2 linked regions of the Homo sapiens genome follow. The protein of the gene in region 2 interacts with the protein of the main gene of each other region in a biochemical or structural test. Each region holds a gene or a part of one and is shown on either strand. Other genes may lie near its edges. The genes, in order: SLC27A1 and RPE65.

What was found.
Region 1: the proteins of RPE65 (region 2) and SLC27A1 form a complex in vitro, tested with the Homo sapiens proteins (one study listed by BioGRID).

The regions. Positions count from the first base shown.
Region 1 is NC_000019.10:17,491,023-17,507,195, reverse strand, and holds the end of SLC27A1 (long-chain fatty acid transport protein 1), read right to left. Parts: intron 16,121-16,173; exon of another isoform or gene 15,999-16,120; intron 15,804-15,998; coding exon of another isoform or gene 15,768-15,803; intron 9,942-15,767; coding exon 9,732-9,941; intron 6,919-9,731; coding exon 6,792-6,918; intron 6,702-6,791; coding exon 6,564-6,701; intron 6,485-6,563; coding exon 6,320-6,484; intron 5,924-6,319; coding exon 5,777-5,923; intron 2,742-5,776; coding exon 2,584-2,741; 3' UTR 1,028-2,583; downstream 1-1,027. UniProt on the Homo sapiens protein: Mediates the import of long-chain fatty acids (LCFA) into the cell by facilitating their transport at the plasma membrane.
Region 2 is NC_000001.11:68,439,843-68,446,954, forward strand, and holds part of RPE65 (retinoid isomerohydrolase), read right to left. Parts: intron 7,019-7,112; coding exon 6,868-7,018; intron 5,042-6,867; coding exon 4,934-5,041; intron 4,831-4,933; coding exon 4,689-4,830; coding exon of another isoform or gene 4,668-4,688; exon of another isoform or gene 2,606-4,667; intron 1,159-2,605; coding exon 1,011-1,158; intron 1-1,010.

The sequences.
Region 1 (16,173 bases), on a different chromosome or scaffold from region 2:
CATTTGGGGTCTTGGAACATATCCCCCAGCGATTGGGAGGAATACTGTATAGACTCCTGAGCTTGGAGTCCTGGGTTCGAATCCCAGCTCAGACGGCCACCCCAGCAGGCCTAGCGACTTTCACCCAGAGCTCTCACACCAGCCGGCCTGTACATGGAAGAGGACACTGCCAGGGCAGCCACAGGTGCCAGGACATACCGTGATCTGAGCCATCCTGCAACACCTGCAGGAACCCACAGGCAGGCTGGCCATCCCTCCCCTGCAACCACAAGGTCAACGAGGGCCTGTGAGGCCCAGACACTGCAGGGAGGTGCCTCCCCCTCGGCAGGCCAGCGAGAGGGCCAACCCGAGTGCCCCTGCCCCAAGGTCCCTTTGGTCTTGCAGATGGGGCCACATGGTACAGGGTCCCTTCTTTTTCTTTTCTTTTTTTTTTTTTTTTGAGACAAAGTCTCGCTCTGTCACCCAGGATGGAGTGCAGTGGCACCATCTCGGCTCACTGCAACCTCCACCTCCCGGCGCAAGCAATTCTCCTGCCCCAGCCTCTGGGGTAGCTGGGATTACAGGTGCGCGCACCACCATGCCTGGCTACTTTTTGTATTCCCTCCCTCCCTCCCTCTCCTCTCCTCTCTCGCTCTTTCCCTCCCTCCCTCCCCCTTTCTCTCTTTCTTTCTATTTTGAACCAGAGTCTCGCTCTGCCACCCAGGCTGGAGTGCACTGCAACCTCTGCCTCCTAGGTTCCAGCAATTCTCCTGCCTGAGCCTCCCGAGTAGCTGGAATTAAAGGTGTGAGCCACCATGCCCAGCTAATTATTTTGTTTGTATTTTTAGTAGAGACAGGGTTTCACCATGTTGGCCAGGCTGGTCTCGAACTCCTGGGCTCAAGTGATTCACCCACCTCAGCCTCCCAAAGTGCTGGGATTACAGGCATGAGCCACTATGCCCGGCTGGCCGAGTCCTGCCTTCTGAAACTCAGCAAGGGTTCTGTGCCACATAGGGACACTCAATGAATGGGCTCCCAGCAGGCACCAGACGGTCTTCAGGTTTATTTCTTAAATCAATTAGGAAATAAAACCACAGTGCCCAGGAAAGTTCACATGAGACGCCACGGTGTCTCTTGCCATGGCCCCACCACTCCAGGGGCCAGGGGGTGCTGCTGGAGGGAGGACAGACGGACAGGCGGCCTGGGTGGCCGGCCCCAGAAAGGCTGGCGTGGATGTTCGAGATGAGCCACCAGCGAAGCCAGTAGGGATGTCTGGGCCGTCCTGGTGGGATTGTCTGGGACATCGCCACCAACACGGTGTCAGAGCCATCAGTGGGGACATCGGAGGGGCCACCACCAGGTGGGGTATATTCAACAGGCTAGAACCCCTGAGGCTTGAGAGGCCAACCCCCGGCAGGAGACCTCCCCTGACCCCTCTGCTGCCTCTCCTGTGGGACCCTCCAGTAGACACACCAGATGAGGACACCCAGGAGGCCTCCTCCCAGGACAGGAGGCAGCTGGCTGGGCAGCCACGCAGTGCAGGGTTCAGGGCCCTCCAGCAGGAGCTCCATGGAGATGGCTAAATGGGGACATCAAGGCAGGGGCTGACAGTGGTGACATCCAAGTGGTCACAGTCAATTCCGGAAGCTTTCAGGGCATCAGGAGGGGAAGGTGGGGCTGGGGAAATGTGACAGGAACGGGGAAGTGCAAAAGGCAATTGGCCTAGCCTGGGAGATTTTCCAGTTGGCCTGGGGGACCCCCGGCTCCTCCATTCAGCAGGGAGGGCGGAGGGCCTGCTTGGAAGTCACATGGAGCTGCAGCATCTGGAACCCAACAGCCACAGGAGGCCTGGATCGGGGCTCCGTAAGGCACAGCCGAGAGGGAGGTGGGGAGGCCCCAGTCCGAGTCCAGGGCCCAGGGGAGATGATTCCTGCAGTCCCCAAAAGCAGCTGGACCCTACACAAGATGCAGCTCCCAGGACACGCGTGTTCCACTCTCGGCAGGAGAGGAGAGGAAAAAGGAAAGGCCGGGCCAGAGGCTCACGCCTATAATCCCAGCACTCTGGGAGGCCGAGGCCAGCGGATCACCTGAGGTCAGGAGTTCAAGACCAACCTGACCAACATGGTGAAACCCCGTCTCTACTAAAAATATAAAAATTAGCTGGACGTGGTGGCGGGTGCCTGTAATCCCAGCTACTCAGGAGGCTGAGGTGGGAGGATCACTTGAACCCCAGGAGGCAGAGGTTGCAGTGAGCCGAGATCCCACCACTGCACTCTAGCCCGGGCAGCAGAGTGAGACTCTATCTTAAAAAAAAAAGAAAGAAAGAAAGAAAAGAAAAAGAGGGAAGAGTTAAGGCCAGACAGGGACAGGGATGGAAGGAGACAGAGGCTGAAAAGCAGGGAGAGGAGGCAGACACAGGGGCACCAAGGCAGCAGAGAGGCACGGGTTCCTCTGAGGTTCCAGTTTCTCAGTCCAGGATGGGCCGTGCCAGGTACAGCTCGGCCAGGTGGGTGTGTACTAGGCGGCCACCCCTGGGCAGCGCTGTCTGGCTCAAGCTGGCCTCTCCCACCAGGCCCAGAGTTTGTGGCCAGTAGAGGAACAGCTTCAGAGGGCGAAGGCGCCCGAGCAGATGCGAGTGTAGACTGCCTCATTTAAGGGCAGGTAGTGGCCCTGCTTCAGGTCCAGGAAGAAGAGCCGGTCTGAGGTCTGGCGTGGGTCAAAGCCCTCTCGCTGCAGCCTCGTCTTCTGGATCTTGAAGGTGCCTATAGTGGGGATGGGGGGCAGATAAGGGCTGAGCAGGTGGCTTCTGGGAGGCCTCAACTCAATATCCTCTCCTGCACCTCTGGACCTTCCCACAGGCTGTCCCCTGGGCAGGAATGTTCTTCCCCATTTTGCCTGCCTGATTCCCCCTTGTCTGTCAGATCCTGGCTTCATGCCCCCTCCTCCAGTGAGGCCTCCCTAACCACTCCTCACCAGGGCAAGAAAATGTACACCCTGCCTGGTCATGTGTCCATTCCCCACATGACAGGCAGGGCTGTGTCTGTTACACAGTGAATAAGAGTTTAGCAACTTACATCCTGTGGGCCAAATTTGGCCCTCCACCTGTTTTTGTAAATAAAGTTTTACTGGGGCCGGGCACAATAATGGCTCATGCCTATAATCTCAGTACTTTGGGACGCCAAGGCAGGAGGGTCGCTTGAGCCCAGGAGTTTAAGACCAGCCTGGGCAACATAGTGAGACTCTGTCTCTGCAAAAACCCTTTTTTTTTTTTTTTTTTTTTTTTTTGAGACATAGTCTTGCTTTGTCACCCAGGCTGGAGTGCAGTGGTGTGATCTCGGCTCACTGCAACCTCCACCTCCTGGATTCAAGTGATTCTCCTGCCTCAGCCTCCCAAGTAGCTGGGATTATAGGCGTGCACCACCACACGTGGCTAATTTTTAAAATTTTGGTAGAGACAGGGTTTCACTATGTTGGCCAGGCTGGTCTCGAACTCCTGACCTCAAGTGATCTGCCCGCCTCGGCCTCTCAAAATGCTGGGATTACAGGCGTGAGCCACCGCACCCGGCCAACAATTTTTTTTTTTTTTTAAATTAGCTGGGTGTCATGGCACGTGCGTGTAGTTCCGGCTACTTGGGAGGCTGAGGTGGGAGAATCACTTGAGCCCAGGAGGAGAAGACTGCAGTAAACTATGATTGCATTATTGCATTCCAGCCTGGACAACAGCAAGATCTTGTCTCAAAAAATAAATAAAAATTTAGAAATAAAGTTTTATTGGCACACAGCCATGCTCATTCATTTGCACATTGTCTATGGCTGCTTTTGCACAAGAATAGCAGTGTTGAATAGCAATCGAGGCTGTATGGCCTGCAAAGCCGAAAATATTAACTATCTGGTCCTTTAAGAAAAAGTTTGCCTGAGCCCAGGACTGCGAGACCAGCCTGGGCAACACAGTGAGACCCTGATATATTTTGGCTGTGTCCCCACCCAAATCTCATCTTGAATTGTAGCTCCCATACTTCCCACGTGTTGTGGGAGGGACCCGGTGGGAGGTAGTTGAATCATGGGGGTGGGTCTTTCCCGTGCTGTTCTCATGATAGTGAAGGGGTCTCACGAGATTTGATGGCTTTATTTGGTGGTTTTTAAAGGGGAGTTCCCTTGCACACACTCTCTTGCCCTCCACCATTAAAAAGTCCCTTTGCTTTTCCTTCGTCTTCTGCCATGATGGTGAGGCCATCCCAGCCATGTGGAACTGTGAGTTCCATTAAACCTCTTTCCTTTATAAATTACCCAGTCTCGGATATGTCTTTATTAGCAGCATGAGAATGGACTAATACAGACCCCATCTCTACAAAAAATCAAAAAAATTAGTCAGGCATGGTGGTGCCTGCCTGTAGTCCTAGCTACTCCAGAGGCTGAGGTGGGAGGATCATTTGAACCCAGGAGGCTGAGGCTGCAGTGAGCTATGATAGTGCCACTGCATGCCAGCCTGGGCAACAGAGTAAGACCCTGTCTCAAACAAACAAACAAACAAAAAAAACAAAAGAAAAAGAAAAGATACACCGAGGCCGGGTGCAGTGGCTCATGTGTGTAATCCCAACACTTTGGGAGGCCAAGGCAGGTGGATCACTTGAGGTCAGGAGTTCAAGACCAGCCTGGCCAATATGGTAAAACTCGATCTCTACTAAAAATACAAAAAAATTAGCTGGGCATGGTGGTGCACACCTGTAATCCCAGCTATTCAGGAGGCTGAGGCAGGAGAATCGCTTGAACCCAGGAGGTAGAGGTTGCAGTGAGCCAAGATCACGCCACTGCACTCCAGCCTGGGTGACAGAGCAAGACTCCATCTCAAAAAAAAAAAAAAAAAAAAAAAAACAAAAAAAACACTATTTCAGAATGCTTAGTGGCAGTGGAAGTGAGGAATGGAAATAAATAACTACTAAAATAAAACAGCAGAAGGGACCCGTGAGAGCCCACAGTGCTAGCTGGCTGTGAGCCCTTGTGTCAGTCCCAGGACACTGTCCTGAACTAGGATGAGTAAATGGTTTGGATATGGTTTGTTTGTCCGCACCAAAAATCATGTTGAAATTATTATTATTATTTTGAGACATTGTCTCACTCTGTCACCCAGGCTGGAGTGCAGTGGCCTGATCTCGGCTCACTGCAACCTCTGCCTCCCAGGTTCAAGCAATTCTTCTGCCTCAGCCTCCTGAGTAGCTGGGACTACAAGTGCATGCCACCATGCCTGGCTAATTTTTTTTTGTATTTTTAGTAGAGACACAGTTTCACCATGTTGGCCAGGCTGGTCTCGAACTCCTGACCTCAGGTGATCCACCTGCCTCAGCCTCCCAAAGTGCGGAGATTACAGGCGGGAGCCACCACACCCGGCCAGGTATTCTTTTTTTTTTTTTTTTTTTGAGACAGAGTATCACTCTATCGCCCAGGCTGGAGTGCAGTGGCGTGATCTGGGCTCACTGCAAACTCCGCCTCCCAGGTTCATGCCATTCTCCTGCCTCAGCCTCCCAAGTAGCTGGGACTACAGGCACCCGCAACCGTGCCCGGCTAATTTTTTGTATTTTTAGTAGAGACAGGGTTTCACTGTGTTAGCCGGGATGCTCTCGATCTCCTCACCTCGTGATCCGCCCGCCTCGGCCTCCCAAAGTGCTGGGATTACAGGCGTGAGCCACCGTGCCTGGCCCCGGCCAGGTATTCTTTTAGAGCAACACAAAATGGACCAAGACATGAATCAACAGACACACTGATGGATGAAGAGAGAGATTGGAGTGGGGGAGACTCGCACCTGTGGTGTCCACCTGGGGCAGGAGGCGCAGGAAGATGGGCCGGGCATAGGGTGCCAGCACCTTCTGCAGCTCCTGGTATATCGCGTTGGGGTCCAGCAGGCTGTGGGGGTCTGCGACGGCCGCCATCCCTGCCTTACCCTCCACTCCTGGAGGCAGAGGCTCAGCTGAGGACACCCCGCCTCTCATCCTCCCCACCAGCAGGACCAGATACACTGTCAAGCAGTAGCCCCTGGTCTGTAATCTCCAGTCTCTCCCAACCTGGGATGACATTTATGGAAGCAGCCACACATTTTGTGGAGCTCCTGCTTGGCTCATTGAAGCCCTAAGACAGGTGGGCTTTCATGATCCCATTTTCTGGATGACAAAACTGAGGCTCAACATCACCCAGGTGAACTGGCTCCAGATCCAGTGCTTCCTCCTGGGCTGCCATGAGCAGTTGTCCAGGTTGTGCACTGCCCAAAGGCATGTGTACTTCTAAGCCCCTTTTGGCTGAGCTCCCTCAGGACCATGCCTCAGGACCACCCCCTGCAACCCCAGCTTGCCTGGAACAGCCACCCCATAGACGGCCACGTCTGTCTGGCCCAGCAGGCGGCTCAGCACGCCCTCCACCTCGGTGGTGGAGACGTTCTCCCCTCGCCAGCGGAAGGTGTCCCCGCTACGGTCCCGGAAGTACATGTAGCCCAGCTCATCCATCACTAGCACGTCACCTGGCAGAGGGGAGAGGGGCAGATGGGTGGAGGATCCCCATCCGCACAGCCAGTCACCGGGGCCTAGCAGGCTGCGCACCTGAGAGGTAGGCGCTGTCGCCCTTGCTGAAGACGCTGTGGGCGATCTTCTTGCTGGTGGCGCTCTCGCTGACATAGCCATCGAAGCGGCGCAGCGGGTCCTGTTGGTTGATCTGACCCACAAGGAGGCCAGGCTCCCCTAGGGAGAAGGCCATGTTCAGGCTGCGCTAGGCAGGCAGGGCGTGGGGACCCCTGCTCCGGGTGGGGACCATGCGGGGGCCCTGCTCACCGGCCTGGCAGGGGATGCAGAGGCCCTGGGCATCCCGCAGCAGCTCCATTGTGTCCTCATTGACCTTCACCAGCCGGATGGGGTACACGTGGGGCAGGATGCGGCTGTTGAAACCACAGGAGCCGACCTGGAATGGGGTGAACTGAGTTGGAAGGAGCCGGGGATATGCGGGGTCCTTCTCAGTAACACTTTGCCTGCCTTGCCCTGGGGCTTGGACCTAGCACCTCCAGTGTCATTCTAAGCTCTGTGACCTTGGCTGATCTGCAAAAGCAGGGTAGTAAGCGTCGCCTCCAACTCAGGGCCCCTCCTCCCACCTTCCCAGCCTGCATTCAGTCAAGAGAAGACCTCTGGCTGGCACCCACTTCCTGATCCACAAAACCCTCCATGCTGGCAGGAAGTAGATGCCTCTGTGTGGACACTACAGCTACGTCAGACACTGCAGAGCTTCACCTGCTGCCCGCCGCCCTGCTTGGCATGGTTCTATGAACAGAAATGCTTCTCCAACATGTTTGAGCCACTACACCCTGTCTGGTGTGTTTCTTTCTGCTTTTCCCCCTTCCTCCGTTCCTCCCTTCCTTCCTTCCTTCCTTTTTTTATAGAGTCTTACTCTGTCGCCTAGGCTGGAATGCAGTGGCGCAATCTTCGCTCACTGTAACCTCTGCCTCCCACGTTCAAGTGGTTCTTATGCCTCAGCCTCCTGAGTCTGGGATTACAGGCGCATGCCACTGAGCCCAAACAATTTTTTTTTTTTTTGTATTTTTAGTAGAGATGGGGTTTTGCCATGTTGGCCAGACTGGTCTCGAACTCGTGACCTCAAGTGATCCACCCACCTCAGCCTCCCAAAGTGCTGGGATTACAGGCGTGTGTGGGTGGCAAGCTACCCAGGTGCCGAGGCAAGAGACCGAGGGCACGAGCCATTCCAGTATAATAAAATATATAAAACAACAAGAGTTATACTAGATCTAGATCATAGACATGATTATATATGAATATCATTAGTCATCAGTTTGTAGCAATTACTCTTTATTCCAGTATTATAATAATCCTCGCTCTGTAATCATAACCTAGAAAAAACCGGGCCATAGAGAGATAGGAGCTGAGGGGACACAGTGAGTAGTGACCAGAAGACAAGAGTGCGAGCCTTCTGTTATGCCCGGACAGGGCCACCAGAGGGTTCCTTGGTCTAGCGGTGACGCCAGCGTCTGGGAAGTCTAGTCTAGCGGTAGCCTTAGTGTCAAGGAAAAACACCTGCTACTTAGTGGACCGGGAAAGGGAGTCTCCCTTTCCCCCGGGGAGTTTAGAGAAGACTCTACTCCTCCACCTCTTGTGGAGGGCCTGACATCAGTCAGGCTTGCCCACAGTTATCCGGAGGCCTAACCGTCTCCCTGTGATGCTGTGCTTCAGTGGTCATGCTCCTAGTCCGCCTTCATGTTCCATCCTGTACACCTGGCTCTGCCTTCTAGATAACAGTAGCAAAATTAGTGAAAGTACTAAAAGTCTCTGATATGCAGAAATAATGGCATAAGCTGTCTTTCTCTCTCTCTCCCTCTCTCTGCCTCTGCCTCGGCTGCCAGGCAGGGAAGGGCCCCCTGTCCAGTGGACGCATGACCCACGTGACCTTACCTATCATTGGAGATGACTCACACTCTTTACCCTGCCCCTTTTGCTTTGTATCCAGTAAATAACAGTGCAGCCAGACATTCGGGGCCTCTACCGGTCTCCGCCTCTTGGTGGTAGTGGTCCCCCGGGCCCAGCTGTCTTTTCTTTCATCTCTTTGTCTTGTGTCTTTATTTCTACAATCTCTCGTCTCCGCACACAGGGAGAAAAACCCACCGACCCTGTGGGGCTGGACCCTACAGGCGTGAGCCACCGTGCCTGGCCTGGTGTGTTTCCTATGCAAGAATCTGAGCTACAGTGAGCAAAAGTGCCCTGGGGGCTGGCCATCCAACACCAAGCACACTGAGGAAGGAGCATTGTTCTTGGCATTAAGGACCCAGCCCCCATGGCACTTGCTGTTTTTTTTTTTCCTTTTTAGAGACACAGAGTCTCACTCTGTTGCCCAGGCTGGAGTCCAGTGGTGTAATCATAGCTCACTGCAGCCTCGATCTCGTGAGCTCACGTGATCCTCCCGCCTCAGCCTCCTTAGTAGCATTGACTACAGGCACCTGCCACCATGCCTGGCTAATTTTTTATTTTCTGTAGAAAAGGGGGTCTCACTACATTGGCTATGCTGGTCTCAAACTCCTGGGCTCAAGTGATCCTCCTGCCTCAGCCTCCCAAAGTGTTAGGATTACAGGTGTGAGCCACTGTGCCCAGCCGACATTTGCTTTATGATCATTATTACGGTCTGTTCTTGGCCTTGGATGGGAGGGGCTTGGGAAAGGAGAGGGAGATTCATGCAAGCGGAGAATGGAGATGATTAAGAGAGTAAGTAGTTGCTAATTATGAAGGTATCTGTTTGCTGCTACTTGGGAGGCTGAGGCAGGAGGATTGCTTGAGCTCAGGAACTGAAAGCTACAGTGAGCTATGATCACGTGGCTGCACTCCAGCCTGGGCGACAGAGCGAGACTCTGTCTCAAACAACAACAACAAAATAACAGCACGGTACACAGAGCCCTATTCTCCTTGCTAATCTCCACACGCAGAAACTGAGGCTCAGAAAGGCTGAGGCACTTGCCAGGGCGCACAGCCATACCTATCCTCCAACTCTCCTGACCCAAGGACCACAGTCACATGACTATCTGTGCAGGCTGCAGGATTGTCCCTCTGGTGGTGCACCGGGAGTCCCAGGAACTCCCCTTACACCCCGCCCTGCGTGCGCCTTGGCGGAGCCTTCCGCGCCAGTCCAGGCTGTTTTATGTATCCCAGGGGCCCCAGGAAGAGGAGACAGTGGTCTTCCCTGAACTCCGAGACCTGCCCCGGGGCCCTGCCGGTGTGCACCTTGCCGTCCATGTTGGCAATGCTGCAGTTGCACTCGGTGGCGCCGTAGAACTCCCCGATTTGGCGTACGCCGAAGCGCTCCGTGAACTCCTCCCAGATGGCAGGACGCAGCCCGTTCCCCACCGCCAGGCGCACGCGGTGTCGCCTCTCCGCCTCGCGCACCGGCTGCTTCAGCAGGTAGCGGCAGATCTCCCCGATGTACTGAACCACCTGGGGGACGGGGTGAGGAAGTGGGTGATGGGACCGGCAGGCGGTGGGGAGCCCGGATCAGAGGAGAGACCCCGAGACCGCCCCACCCAGGGAGCTAATCCTATGAGCGGAACAGCCTAAGGATGATGATGGCTGCAGAATCGTCCACACTCCATTAGGGACCACATTGACTCCTAGGACTCGTTCAGTCTCTTGCAAAGGGTCTAGGATGCAGCTTTTTTTGTTGTTTTTTGGTTGGGGGTCTCCCTGTGCCGCCCAGGCTGGAGTGCAGTGGCATGATCACAGCTCACTGCAGCCTCTAACTCCTGGGTTCAAGTGATCTTCCAGCCTTAGCCTCCCGAGTAGCTGGGACTACAGATTTTTTTGTAGAGATGGGGGATCTCGCTCTGTTGCCCAGGCTGGTCTTGAACTCCTGGCCTCAAGCAATCCTCCTGCCTCAGCCTCCCAAAGTGTGAGATTCCAGGTGTGAGCCACTTGTGCCTGGCCGGATGCAACTTCTATCCAAGCAGATGCAGTGTCTTTCCTCCTCCCCCTACCCGCACCCCTTCGTGGTCCCTCGATTCTGCCAAGCAGCTTCCTGGAGATACCACATCCCTGTCTGAGCCTCAGCAGGCACACAGGGCAGGACTAGCAGGAGAGCTGGCACCCCGCAGGGCAACCCTCAGCCTGGAGCCTACACTGTCACCCAGAGCCCCCTGGCTGAGCCTGGGCTGGCCGGAGCGTCACCCCTGGGCAGACCACTCCCAGGTGCACCCACTAGGCTGCGCTGCGTCTGGACTGAGCCCCAGGTGCCCACGGAGCCACCTGCTCATGGGCTCCCCCTGCAGGACATCTTCCCTCCCTGCCACACATTCTCAAGCCCCGCAAGAGCTTCCTGGGGTCATCCACCAGGTGCCCCACGGTGCCTTTAAGAGTTCTCATCTCCAGTTGGGCTTCGGAATGACTCCCCCCCCGCCACTTTACAGATGGAGAAACCGAGGCTCACAGATGGTAAGGAACTGGAACGAGATCACAGAGCTGGGAAGTGGCAGAATTTGATTTGAACCCAGGCATCCCGGCCCCAGAGTGGGAATAAAACAGTTGCATGCCAGGGATTACCCACCAGATGGATCATAACAGCTGCAAATGTGCTCGGGGCTTCCCGCTCACACACAGGATGAAACCCACATTTCTTCCTGTGGCCAACTGGATCTGGCCCTGCCGCCCCTGCTGCCTCCTCTCCCTCCATCTCCGCTGAACACTCTGCCTCCTCAGGGACTTTGCACATGCTAGCCTTTTGCCTGAAGCAGTCTTCCCCCAGATGCATTTGCCTGAACTCTTCAGTCTCAGCTCAAACGTCACTGAGAGGCATCCCCTGTGCCCCCAGCTGTGCCCCTGAGAAGGTACTGACTAAATAGCTGATGACTAAACCAATATGATCAGCAGACACCACCGCCATGCTCTGAGCTGAGCTTGGAGATGAAGGCACTGAGGCCCAGAGAGGAAATGCAGTGCACCCAAGATCACTGGCTGCTGACCAACAGCAGGTCCCTAAGGGGGAGGGTCCTCTCCCTCCATTCTCAGACTTGGGCCACTGCCTTAGGTGTGGTACAGCCCACACCATCTCTAGGAGAGAACCTGGCCAATCAGCCCAGCCCCTCCTCAGCCAATATGACTGGCTTAAGAATGGGCACGGCCAGGCGGGGTGGCTCAAGCCTGTAATCCCAGCACTTTGGGAGGCCAAAGCAGGTGGATCACGAGGTCAGGAGATCGAGACCATCCTGGCTAACATGGTGAAACCCCGTCTCTACTAAAAAATACAAAAAATTAGCCGGGCGTGGTGGCACACTCCTGTAATCCCAGCTACTCGGGAGGCTGAGGCAGGAGAATGGCGTAAACCCGGGAGGCGGAGCTTGCAGTGGGCCGAGATCGCGCCACTGCACTCCAGCCTGGGCGACAGAGCGAGACTCCATCTCAAAAAAAAAAAAAAAATGGGCACATGGCTGGGCGCGGTGGCTCATGCCTGTAATCCCAGCACTTTGGGGGGCCGAGGTGGGCAGATCACTTCAGGTCAGAAGTTCGAGACCAGCCTAGCCAATGTAGTAATACCTCATCTCTACAAAAATACAAGAAAATTTTGCCAGACCTGGTGGCATGTGCCTGTAATCCCAGCTACTTGGGAGGCTGAGGCAGGAGAATCTCTTGAACCCGAGAGGCAGAGGTTGCAGTAAGCCAAGATCGCTCTATTGTACTCCAGCCTGGGGACAAGAGTGAGACTCCGCCTCAGAAAAAAAAAAAAGGCAAGGATTTTTACAGACAAGCTAGCAGGGAGGCTGTATCTGATCTAAATAGACCGTGAAAAACCGGTGAGGACCAGATGTGCCATCCGCATAGGGCGCAAATCTCTGGCAGCCCCCAACCCAATCTCTTATTATGCAGGTGAGTAGCTACTCTACGTTGCCTATTTTTTTTTTTTTTGGAAACAAAAAATCCTCGGTAGAACTTCCCTTCTAACAAAAAGCAGCCCAAGAAATCACTTATTTTCTAACAAAGAACAGCCTGGAAGATTGGGCTGCAAACACAAATAAGGAAGCTGGAAGCTTGCAGCAGGGGATGCCAGCAGCTGCACCGATAAAAAGGGCTACCTGTGGCCGGGCACGGTAGCTCACGCCTGTAATCTCAGCACTTTCGGAGGCCAAGGTGGGTGGATCACCTGAGGTCAGGAGTTCGAGACCAGCCTGGCCAACATGGTGAAACCCCATCTCTACTAAAAATACAAAATTAGCCAGGCGTGGTGGCACACACCTGTAATCCCAGCTATTCAGGAGCCTGAGGCAGGAGAATCACCTGAACCCAGGAGGTGGAGGTTGCAGTGAACTGAGATCGCACCACTGCACTCTGGCCTGGGCAACAGAGTGAGACTCCGTCTCAAAAAGAAAAAGAAAAAGAAAAAGGCCAGGCACGGTGGCTCACGCCTGTAATCCCAGCACTTTGGGAGGCCGAGGTGGGCAGATCATGAGGTCAGGAGATCGAGACCATCCTGGCTAACACCGTGAAACCCTGTCTGTACTAAAAAATACAAAAAAAAAATTAGCCAGGTGTGGTGGCGGGCGCCTGTAGTCCCAGCTACTCAGGAGGCTGAGGCAGGAGAATGGTGGGAACCCAGGAGGTGGAGCTTGCAGTGAGCCAAGATTGCGCCACTGCACTCCAGCCTGGGAGACAGAGCGAGACTCCGTCTCAAAAAAAAAAAAAAAAGAAACAGCTACCTGGGGCTGGGCATGTCCACCCTGGGGGCTCCACCATCCCTTTTTTGTTAGCACGTGTACAGTAAGAAAGAAATAAGCAACAAAAGCCGGCTGCTGTGGCTCATGGCTGTAATCCCAGCAGTTTGGGAGGCTGGGGCAGGCAGATCACCTGAGGTCAGAAGTTTGAGACCAGCCTGGCCAACATGGTGAAACCCCGTCTCTACTAAAAATACAAAAAATTAGCTAGGCTTGGTGGTAGACCCCTGTAATCCCAGCTACTCAGGAGGCTGAGGGAGGGGAATCACTTGAACCCAGGAGAAGGAGGTTGCAGTGAGCCGAGATCACACTACTCCATTCCAGCCTGGGAGATGCAGCGAGACTGTGTCTCAAAAAAAAAAAAAAGTAAGGTTCTAGATTATAGCCTGCTGCCCCCATGAGAATGGCTAGACTGCAACTGCTGCTACAGATAAAATAGCAGTGAGCAGTTTCTCATGAGATGTAATTTCTGAACCCAAATAAATGTATGCTCTTGTTTTCTCCTTGTGTCCTTATTAAACATCACCTTTAGAGATTCTGTCCTGTTTTTTTTTTTTTTTTTTTTTTGAGATGGAGTTGTGCTCTCTCACCCAGTCTGGAGTGCAGTGGCGCGATCTCGGCTCACTGCAACCTCCACTTCCCGGGTTCAAACGATTCTCCTGCCTCAGCCTCCCGGGTAGCTGGGACTACAGGTGCCCGCCACCATGCATGGCTAATTGTTTTTGTAGAGATGGGGTTTCACCATGTTGGCCAGGCTGGTCTTGAACTCCTGACCTGAGGTGATCCACCTGCCTCGACTTCCCAAAGTGCTGGGATTACAGGCGTGAGCCGCCGCGCCCGGCCCTGTCCTCTATTTTTCTTTTTTTTTTTTTGAGATGGAGTCTCACTCTGTCGCCCAGGCTGGAGTGCAGTGGCACAGTCTCAGCTCACTGCAACCTCCACCTCCTGGGTTCACAGGATTCTCCTGCCTCAGCCTCCCAAATAGCTGGGACTACAGGTGCCCACCACCGCACCTGGCTAATTTCCCATCCTCTATTTCTTTCTTTTTTTTTTTAAGACGGAGTTTCGCTCTCGTTGCCCAGGCTGGAGTGCAATGGCACAATCTCGGCTCTCACTGCAACTTCCACCTCCCGGGTTCAAGCAATTCTCCTGCCTCAGCCTCCTGAGTAGCTGGGATTACAGGCATGTGCCACCACGCCCTGCTAATTTTTGTATTTTTAGTAGAGATGGGGTTTCTCCATGTTGGTCAGGCTGGTCTCAAACTCCAGACCTCAGGTGATCCACCCGCCTCGGCCTCCCAAAGTGCTGGGATTACAGGCGTAAGACACTGCGCCCGGCCCCGTCCTCTATTTCTTTTTCTTTTTTTTTTTTTTTTTTTGAGATGGAGTCTCACTCTTGTCACCCAGGCTGGAGTGCAGTGGTGCGATCTCGGCTCACTGCAACCTCCACCTCCTGGGTTCACAGGATTCTCCCGCCTCAGCCTCCCAAATAACTGGGACTATAGGCGCCCACCATGCCTAGCTAATTTCCCATCCTCTATTTCTTAAAAAGCCTCTCAATGTTCACTGTGTGCCTTATTTGACACAGAAATTCCACTTCTAGGAAACTGACAGAATGAGCTTCCAAGGCCCAGGAGACAGTAAGTAGTAACCAATGCAAGATGGTGTGTCAAGGACAAAGAGAGACCATCAGACATGACGGGCTTCCCAGTGGGAGGACACCACACCACCCATAAGGAATCTTTGCCAAAAAAGTTGAGTTTGAAGCCGATAAAATATATAGACCAGCGATTCTCAAGCGGGGACCATTCTGTCCCCCAGGGACACTTAGCAACATCTAGACACATTTTTTTAATTGTCACAACTTGGGGGAAGGGGACTGCTACTGGCATCTGGTGCAGGGAGGCCAGGGATGTTGCTAAATATATGCTACAATGCACAGGACACGTCCCACCCCAGGGAATGATCCAGCCCCAAATGTTAAGAGTCAAACCTGTTCTGGACACTATCTCAATTTCTGTAATAAATAAATTCCAAGAGGGAAGAGAGACAGACAGAAAGAGAAAAGGCACCTACAGATGAAATATTTTCTTTTCTTTTCTTTTCTTTTTTTTATTTTTTTGAGATAGGGGCTTGCTCTGTTGCCCAGGCTAGAGTACACTGGCACAATCACGGCTGACAGCAGCCTTGACCTCCTGGGCTCAAGCAATCCTCCCACCTCAGCCTCCCAAGCAGCTGGGACTACAGGCACAAACCACCACAACCAGCTAGATTTTCAATTTTTTTGTAGAGATGAGGGACTCACTATGTTGCCCAGGCTGGTCTACAACTCTTGGGCTCAAGCGATCCTCCCGCCTCGGCTTCCCAAAGTGCTGGGATTACAGGCATGAGCCATTGCGCTCAGCCAAGAATTCTTACAAGACACATCAACCAGTCATAATGCTGGTTGTGTATTTAATTATGGAAATAAGAAAAAACACATTTTTGACATTGTGAGACAGAATTGAGCCACTGCCCAGATTCCTGATGACACTGAGATATCACTGTCACTTAAAAACAATGCTTACCAGACACAAAAGGCGACAGTGTCTGACTCCATTGATCTGAAATGTCCAGAACAGGCAAATCATAGAGGCAGGAAGCAGAATAGTGGTTGCCAGGGGCTGGGGGTGGAGGGATGGGGAGTAACTGGGGATGGGATTTCCTTTGGGGGGCATGAGAATGTTCTGGATCTAGATAGACATGGTGATTGTACATTGTGAATGCCACCAAATTACTGACTTTTTTTTTTTTTAAAGATGGAATCTCACTCTGTCACCCAGACTGGAGTGCAGTGGCCCGATCTCAGCTCACTGCAGCCTCCGCTTCCCAGGTTCAAGCGATTCTCCTGCCTCAGCCTTCCAGGCAGCTGGGATTACAGGTGTGTATCATCATGCCCGGCCAAATTTTTTTTTTTTTTTTTTTTGAGATGGA
Region 2 (7,112 bases):
CAGATTTGGAAACGTGCACTCAAATAGGGTTGTGGCAAGTGGAGTGTAGTGGAGTCACATCTTGCAATAGCTGGAGGTGGGTTTTAAGTCAGGGGAGTAGGGAAGAAACCTCAGAATGGTCAAAATGCCTTTTGCAACATCTTAAGATGCCCAAAGGATATAGTTTAGATGGGTTTGTGTCAATAGCCCTGTACAGTAATTCTTATGCACATTAAAATTTACTCACTAGTAAGTGAATGGTCCTCAAACTTTAGTGTGCATCAGAATCACATAAAGAGTTTCTTAAAATACTGATTGCAGGCTCCACTCCCAAAATTTCTCATTCAGTCTGCCCAGGACAAGGCTCAAGATTTGTATTTCTAACAGTTTCCTAGGTGATGGTCTTGGTCCAAGGACTACACTTTGAGAACTGTACTAAATAATACTAAACAAAAATCTGTATACATTCAAATAATTCCATCATCAAGGTGGTGAACAATGAACCTGGCAATAAATGAAGAATGAATGGAGAATTCTAGGGTACACTCTTTTTGCTGTAGTTCTTTTTCTATAGTACTTCTATGAGATAACAGATTTGTTTGTAGTTTTGGGAATTAAGCGCAACATATTTAGTACACTCTCATATATGTATGTATGCTATTATGCACACATACATGCTTATTTAATTTAATTTTGCCTAGCACATGAATAAGTGCTCAATAAATGTTTGCTAAGTTTGAATCCTAATTGTATATGATCAAATCCATATATATATATGTACTACATTTTTAATATTCTAGAAGAGAACTTGGACACTTGCTTTCTATATTTTCAAGTCGTCATCCTTTGATATGATGCCCTTGGGCATTAGGCCCCTTATAGGGTAGGGATGAGGGCAGTACTTCTGAAGTCTGAGAGTAATTTAACTATGCACAAAATGCTATTCTGACATTCTTATCTTTCTCACAATACAGTAACTTTCTCACAATATAGACACTTATTTTCAGAAGAGGACAGATTGGTAAACTCACCTGCTTGCAGTGGTGGGATCTTTACAATGTTGTAGGCAATTGAAAAATTTTTTCCAAAGCAATTACCAATATTGTAAACGGTTCCATCATTTTCAATGTGGGGGTGAGCAGTGGCCCCATTGACAGAGACATAGTTGCAAAGATCAACCTACGGAAGTAAAGTGAATGTCCTCCAGTTGAGAGAAGGAAGATACATTATACCTTTGTCCCTAGGTCTGAGGTCATCACTACCCCTTGAACTCTCATCCTAAGTGCACTTCTCTTTCTTCCCATCTCTCTGGATTCTACCCTCTTTCACCTTGAGTTCCCACCTTCATGCAGAACATAATGCCCCCTCATGTGTCTGAATCTGGAGTTACCTGTGACATCTCTTTATTTGATGTATACCATACAGTGCTCTGGTTAGTTACTTTTCTTTTAGCATATGCAGATTGACCTGAAACCATAAGTTTGAGTCCTCAGACTTCTTTATACTCTTATTATTGTATTAGATTTAATTGTATAAGATTGCTAACATTTAATAATTGCTGATTTCCAAAAATGTCAATTTCGTATGGTACTATGTAAATACCAACTATATGTCTTGCACATGGTACTGTATGAGTTTGGAACTGAAAGGGACTTCAAGCTTCATCTAGTATAGAAAGTCTTAATTTAAATAGACTTTAGGAGAACCATGGATCTCTTTTAATTAAATATAAACATTTCTGGCAAAAGCATACAGCATTTAATTCAATTTTATGTCTCATAAGAAGTTTAGAACTACAAATGTAACACAAATCTCTGTTTGCAGAAGGATAAATTGGGGTTCCAGAGAGATCAAGTGTCTTGTTTAAGGATAAAGAGCTAGATAAATCAGCACTAGATTTCCACCTGGGACCTACTTGGTAAAGAGTTATTGAATGAATAATTACTGGAATATATATTTATCTAACCAAAATTATTTCCAATTAATTAGGGAGATTTTTTTAAAGCATAGGACATTTTAGCAACCTTATTTAAATAATAGGCAAGATATTCATTTATTCAGTCAATCATTTATCAAATACTCTGAGCTTTCACTATGTGCCAGGCACTGTATCAGGGCTCAGGAGAGAGAAGATCTTTGCTTTCAAGAACTTCATTCTAGACCCGTGCTGTTCTATTAATACAGGACCACTAATTTTTAGATAGAACTTCAAATTCAGCTCCTCAGTCACATTAGCCACATTTCAAGTGCTTAATAACACCAGGATAGCACAGTTATAGAGCATTTCCATTATTGCAGAAAGTTCTATTGGACAGCCCTGCATTAGACCAATAAGCCGGTGTAAAGCACTGTGAGTGTGCAATGGCATCGTAGAGAAGCGCCATCTAGCCCAGACTGAGGGATGAGGCAGTTTTCCTGAGAAACATGACTCCAACTAATGTTTGAAAGGTGCGTGGAGTTAGCCAAGTGGAGCAGGATGACAGTGTATTCCAGGGAGTGGGAATCCTAATGTAAATGCATAGACTTGTGAAATAATGTGTGCTGTTTGGCCATTACTAGTCATTTAACCTGGCTGCCATGAAGGGCATGCGTAGAGGAGGCGAAATAAGAGTGGGCCAGCCACAAAGACCTTCGCTTGGACTTTATTTGGGAAGTTATGGATTCCCTAGGTGGAGTAATACTTTCATATTTATATTTTAAAAAATTGCTACTGCTGCCTTAAATAAATTGTATTTAAGGGAATCAGGCTGGAGGCAAAGGCACTGGTTAATAACAGTAAACAATCAAAAATTTCACATTTTTAAAATTACATTTTACAGTGCTAGTAACAGTGGAACCTGACTCCTAATAAAGTCTATTCTGCAGCCATACCATAGCTTCTATATTTCTAATTAAAATATCATGTAATTGTAATACAGATTCCCTATCAAAGTCAAATGAATGATTTAGAAACTCAGCTTTTGTTCTTCTCTAAAGGAGCTACACACACACTTGTATATGGTTACACACACACAACATAAACAAGAAAGAGCTATGGGGAGTGTATGTTAAGACATAGTAAATAGTCTGTTGAGAATTATAGATCAGCTTGTGCTATTGAGACTCAATGTTGAGACTATTTTTTTTCTTCTTATTTTTACCAGTACTGCATTTGTGGTTCTGGCTTTTAGTTTCACCTCTTGGTCTCCCAGCTATACTGTATCTCTTTTGCCTTCCCGTACAGCCCACACATGGCTCCCCAAATAAACATCTGAAAATATAGCCCTACTCATACTACTTCTTTGAGCAAAAACTTTCAGTAGCTTCCCATTAGCTAAACAACATATTCCAAATGTATAGCCAATTATTCAAGCTTTTAATTTCATCCTACCCTGTGTCTCAATATTCCCCTTGACATTAACTACTCTAGGCAACTAGTTCTCAACTGGGAGTGTTATTGCCCCCTAGGGGAAGATACGGAAATGTCAGGAGCGTTTTGGGTTTGTATAATGATTGAAAACATGACTGGTGTTTAGTGGATGAGGCCAGGGATGCCAAACCTCTCCCATGTGTGGGACGTCTCCATGATGATGAGTCACCCCCTGCCTAATGTCATACTAATACCTCCACTGAGAAATGCTGCAAGTCTAGTCCAAGGAGATTATTCTCCAGTTTTCATGAACACCTTCTACCTCCATGCTTTTGATCGCTTTACCCCCTCCATCTAGCATATCCTTTCTCTAAATTCACTGAAATCATCCCTCTCTTTTAACTTCCAGCCCAAAGCCTTTCCCTTTAAGCCTTCTTTCACCTGTCCCACCTTGCATTGCCAACTACTTCCAGAAGTAATTCCTTTCGTATTTATGCTTTCTTAAAAGATTTTCCTTCTTAAAAGACTCGTCATATTCTTTGTCCTATTACAGTTACATATTTGATTTCTCCACCTAGACATTAAGTCACCTGAAGACAAGAACAATGCCTTGTAAATAGGTGTATCTTAGTAAATATTGGTTCAAAATGTGTATCTAAGGACTGCTGCATTGAGATTCCCTAAGTTCTCCATAAAATTTGTCACTTCCAAATATTGCTGAAATTTTGTTCTATGCTATTTCATTCAAGATATAGCTTTATTTCTAATAAGAAGTATCTATAAGAAGGGGCAAATTAGTGCAACATACTTGCCTAGAACCATAAATAGCATGATTTTCAGTATCAGTAGCTATAATTTTTTGAGCACCCAGTATTTACCAGGTTCATGCTAGCTTATAAAAGCTATGAAAGGCAGGGACCATGTTACCCTACTCATTGATCTATCCCTTGCATCTAGCATAAATTCTGAATATGGAAAGCACTTGATAAGTATTTGTGTCATGAATGAATGAATGAATATGTTAGGCATTTTATATGGGTTCTCTCCAATCCATGTAAGTGTTTAAAATTTTAGAGATGAAGAAACAATGTTTGTCCTATGTCAAATAGCTAGTCATTGTTGACAATGCTAGGATTTGAAACTTAATGTGGCTCTCATGTTCTTTTCACCAAATTACACCAATTGCAGGAAAGCATCATAGACAGAGGCAATCAGTGCAGTCCATTTGGAGCTTGGAATGGTCATTCTGTGTGTCCTCATCAAGTTAGAATCATACATTCGCAGCATGAATAATTTATGTTGAATTAATTTTAAGTTCCAAATTCTAAATTCCTGAACATCACCTAGCACTGTGTCCCACCTGCTTAATTGTCTCCAAGGTCTCTGGATTAATCTTTGTAATAAAGTTGGTCTCTGTGCAAGCGTAGTAATCTTCCCCCACTGGGTAGACATTAACAAGGGCATTGTCAGTAACCTCTACTCCTCGAAAGTAAGAAAAAAACCTGTAGAAACAAATGAATTTTTCAGTCCAGTAATTTTCAAGCCATGAGAGAAAAAGGGCTAATATAAAATGTCTTGAGTAACATTCAGTTTGGGTTCAGTAACCTGGAAAATATATTCTTGCAGGGATCTGGGAAAGCACAGGTGCCAAATTCTGTTATGACGATCCTTTTCTCAGTCATTGCCCGTACGTAAGCATCAGTGCGGATGAACCTGAAGGACATTGAAACATAGGGAAGAGTATAGACAGGAGCAATCCGTACAGCCCATGTGGAGCTTAGAATGGCCATTCTATGTGTCCTCATCAAGTCACAATCATAAATGCACAACATGAAGAATAAAGGGTTTTATTAGCTCACTTTCTTGGGGTGACCAAGCAGGGCAGACACAATGTCCCTTGAGTTTACGTTTTTATCTTTTAAACCTCACAGATGAGGAAATTGAGGTTCAGAGGAGTTAAGTGATTGGCATATGTGGCCAAGCTGGGTTAGAATCCTAGTTGGCCAGAGCAGGACAACATGAACTTTCTATATCACACCATGCAGCCCTGGGGGAAGTTCACATAGGACCCCCACCCCCATCACCTATAACCTATCAACCTAAACTTACTGGGAAAATTCCGGACATGGTGTGCTGAATTATATTCTTCTCAATCTCCCTCTGTTACTTTTATGTTTTTCTTCAATTTTAACATTTATTTTGTTTTAAAAATTAAGTATTCTTGAATTCCATCTCTTGCCTAGACAGGTCTGCTAAACCATATCTTAGAGTAGACAGCATACTTTGCCCAGGATTTCTGATATGGAGAGCCAGTTAAAATCTGATTTTGTACTTTTAATTAATTAATTAATTAATTAATTTGAGATGGAGTCTTGCTCTGTTGCCCAGGCTGGAGTGCAGTGGCGCAATCTTGGCTCACTGCAACCTCCGCCTCCTGGGTTCAAGCTATACTCTTGCCTCAGCCTCCCAGGTAGCTGGGACTACAGGCGTGTACCACCACGCCCGGCTAATTTTTCTGTATTTTTAGTAGAGACGGGGTTTCACCATGCTAGCCAGGCTGGTCTCAAACTCCTGACCTCAAGTGATCTGGCCGCCTTGGCCTCCCAAAGTGCTGGGATTACAGATGTGAGCCACCCACACCCGGTCGCACTTTTATGAAGAAGAAAGAGTACCCTGCTCTGTCGAAGGTATAGGAAGCTTTATCTGAACTCCACAGTAAGCTCTTATGGCTACATTTCTGCTTGACATCATCCGTTTCTCTTCTATTATCATGCAAGTTGTCCTGCTTCAAGTCCCCTTTCACTTTTTCTTTACAGGTCTTTTCAAAATGCCTGAAATCTGTGGTGATCAACAAAGCCACTAATAGGCTTGAACACGAAAGCAGAAGACAAAGTATTTGTTAATACTTCATTAATGGGGGTTTCCTGGAATGATGATTTAGGGCTTCAAGGCTTTTTAGCAATAATCTCTTGTTTTCAGAAAACTTCTCTTTCTGGTAGCACTATGACATGTTTCATCCTTCACTACTTTGTGGCAGCCCCCGACCCCTTTCCCAGTGGCCTTTCCAATTTTATAAAAAGAAAAAGGAATCAAGATGGCCAATGGTTTAATAATAATAACAAGCATCACAATAGCTATTATTATGAAGTGCTTTGTGTGTGCTAGACACTGCGCTCTCATTTAATGCTTGTAATGAATATATAAGGTAGATTCTATTATTTCTCCCATTTTACTAATTATAAAACCAAGAATTGGAGGTCAACATCTTGCCAAGGTTACCCTCCTAGGCAAGTCATGTCTGTTGAATACAGGGTTTAAAGCCACTCATGTTGGACCCCAAAGCCCTAGGCTTTAGCTTCTCCTTTATTCCATGATAATGTTCCCTCGTATCCATGCAGACACACTGGCCCAGGTACATTGTGAGAAGAAAGTGGGTATATAGGTTGCCTCCTGAGTTCAGAGGTGAAAACTCACATGGGAGGAGGAGCCAAGCTAGGCCCTACTTTGAGGAGGAGGAGTGGCATGGAGTGCTGCTTTACCTTCTGTGGTATGTGACATGTCCTTCTTTAAAGTCAAACTTGTGCAGGAGGGCTTGCCCATCAAACAGGTGGTAAAATGGCTCAGATCCAACTTCAAAGAGTCCTGGCCCACATCGAAGGAGACTGCCGGTGAGCCAGAGGGGGATCCTGCCTGTGATGAAGGGGAGACAGAACATTGCTTCTTATCCCTGCCTTGGGCTAGGCTTGTCCTTGGTAAGGCAGAGTATATCAGCAGCCTGATTGGG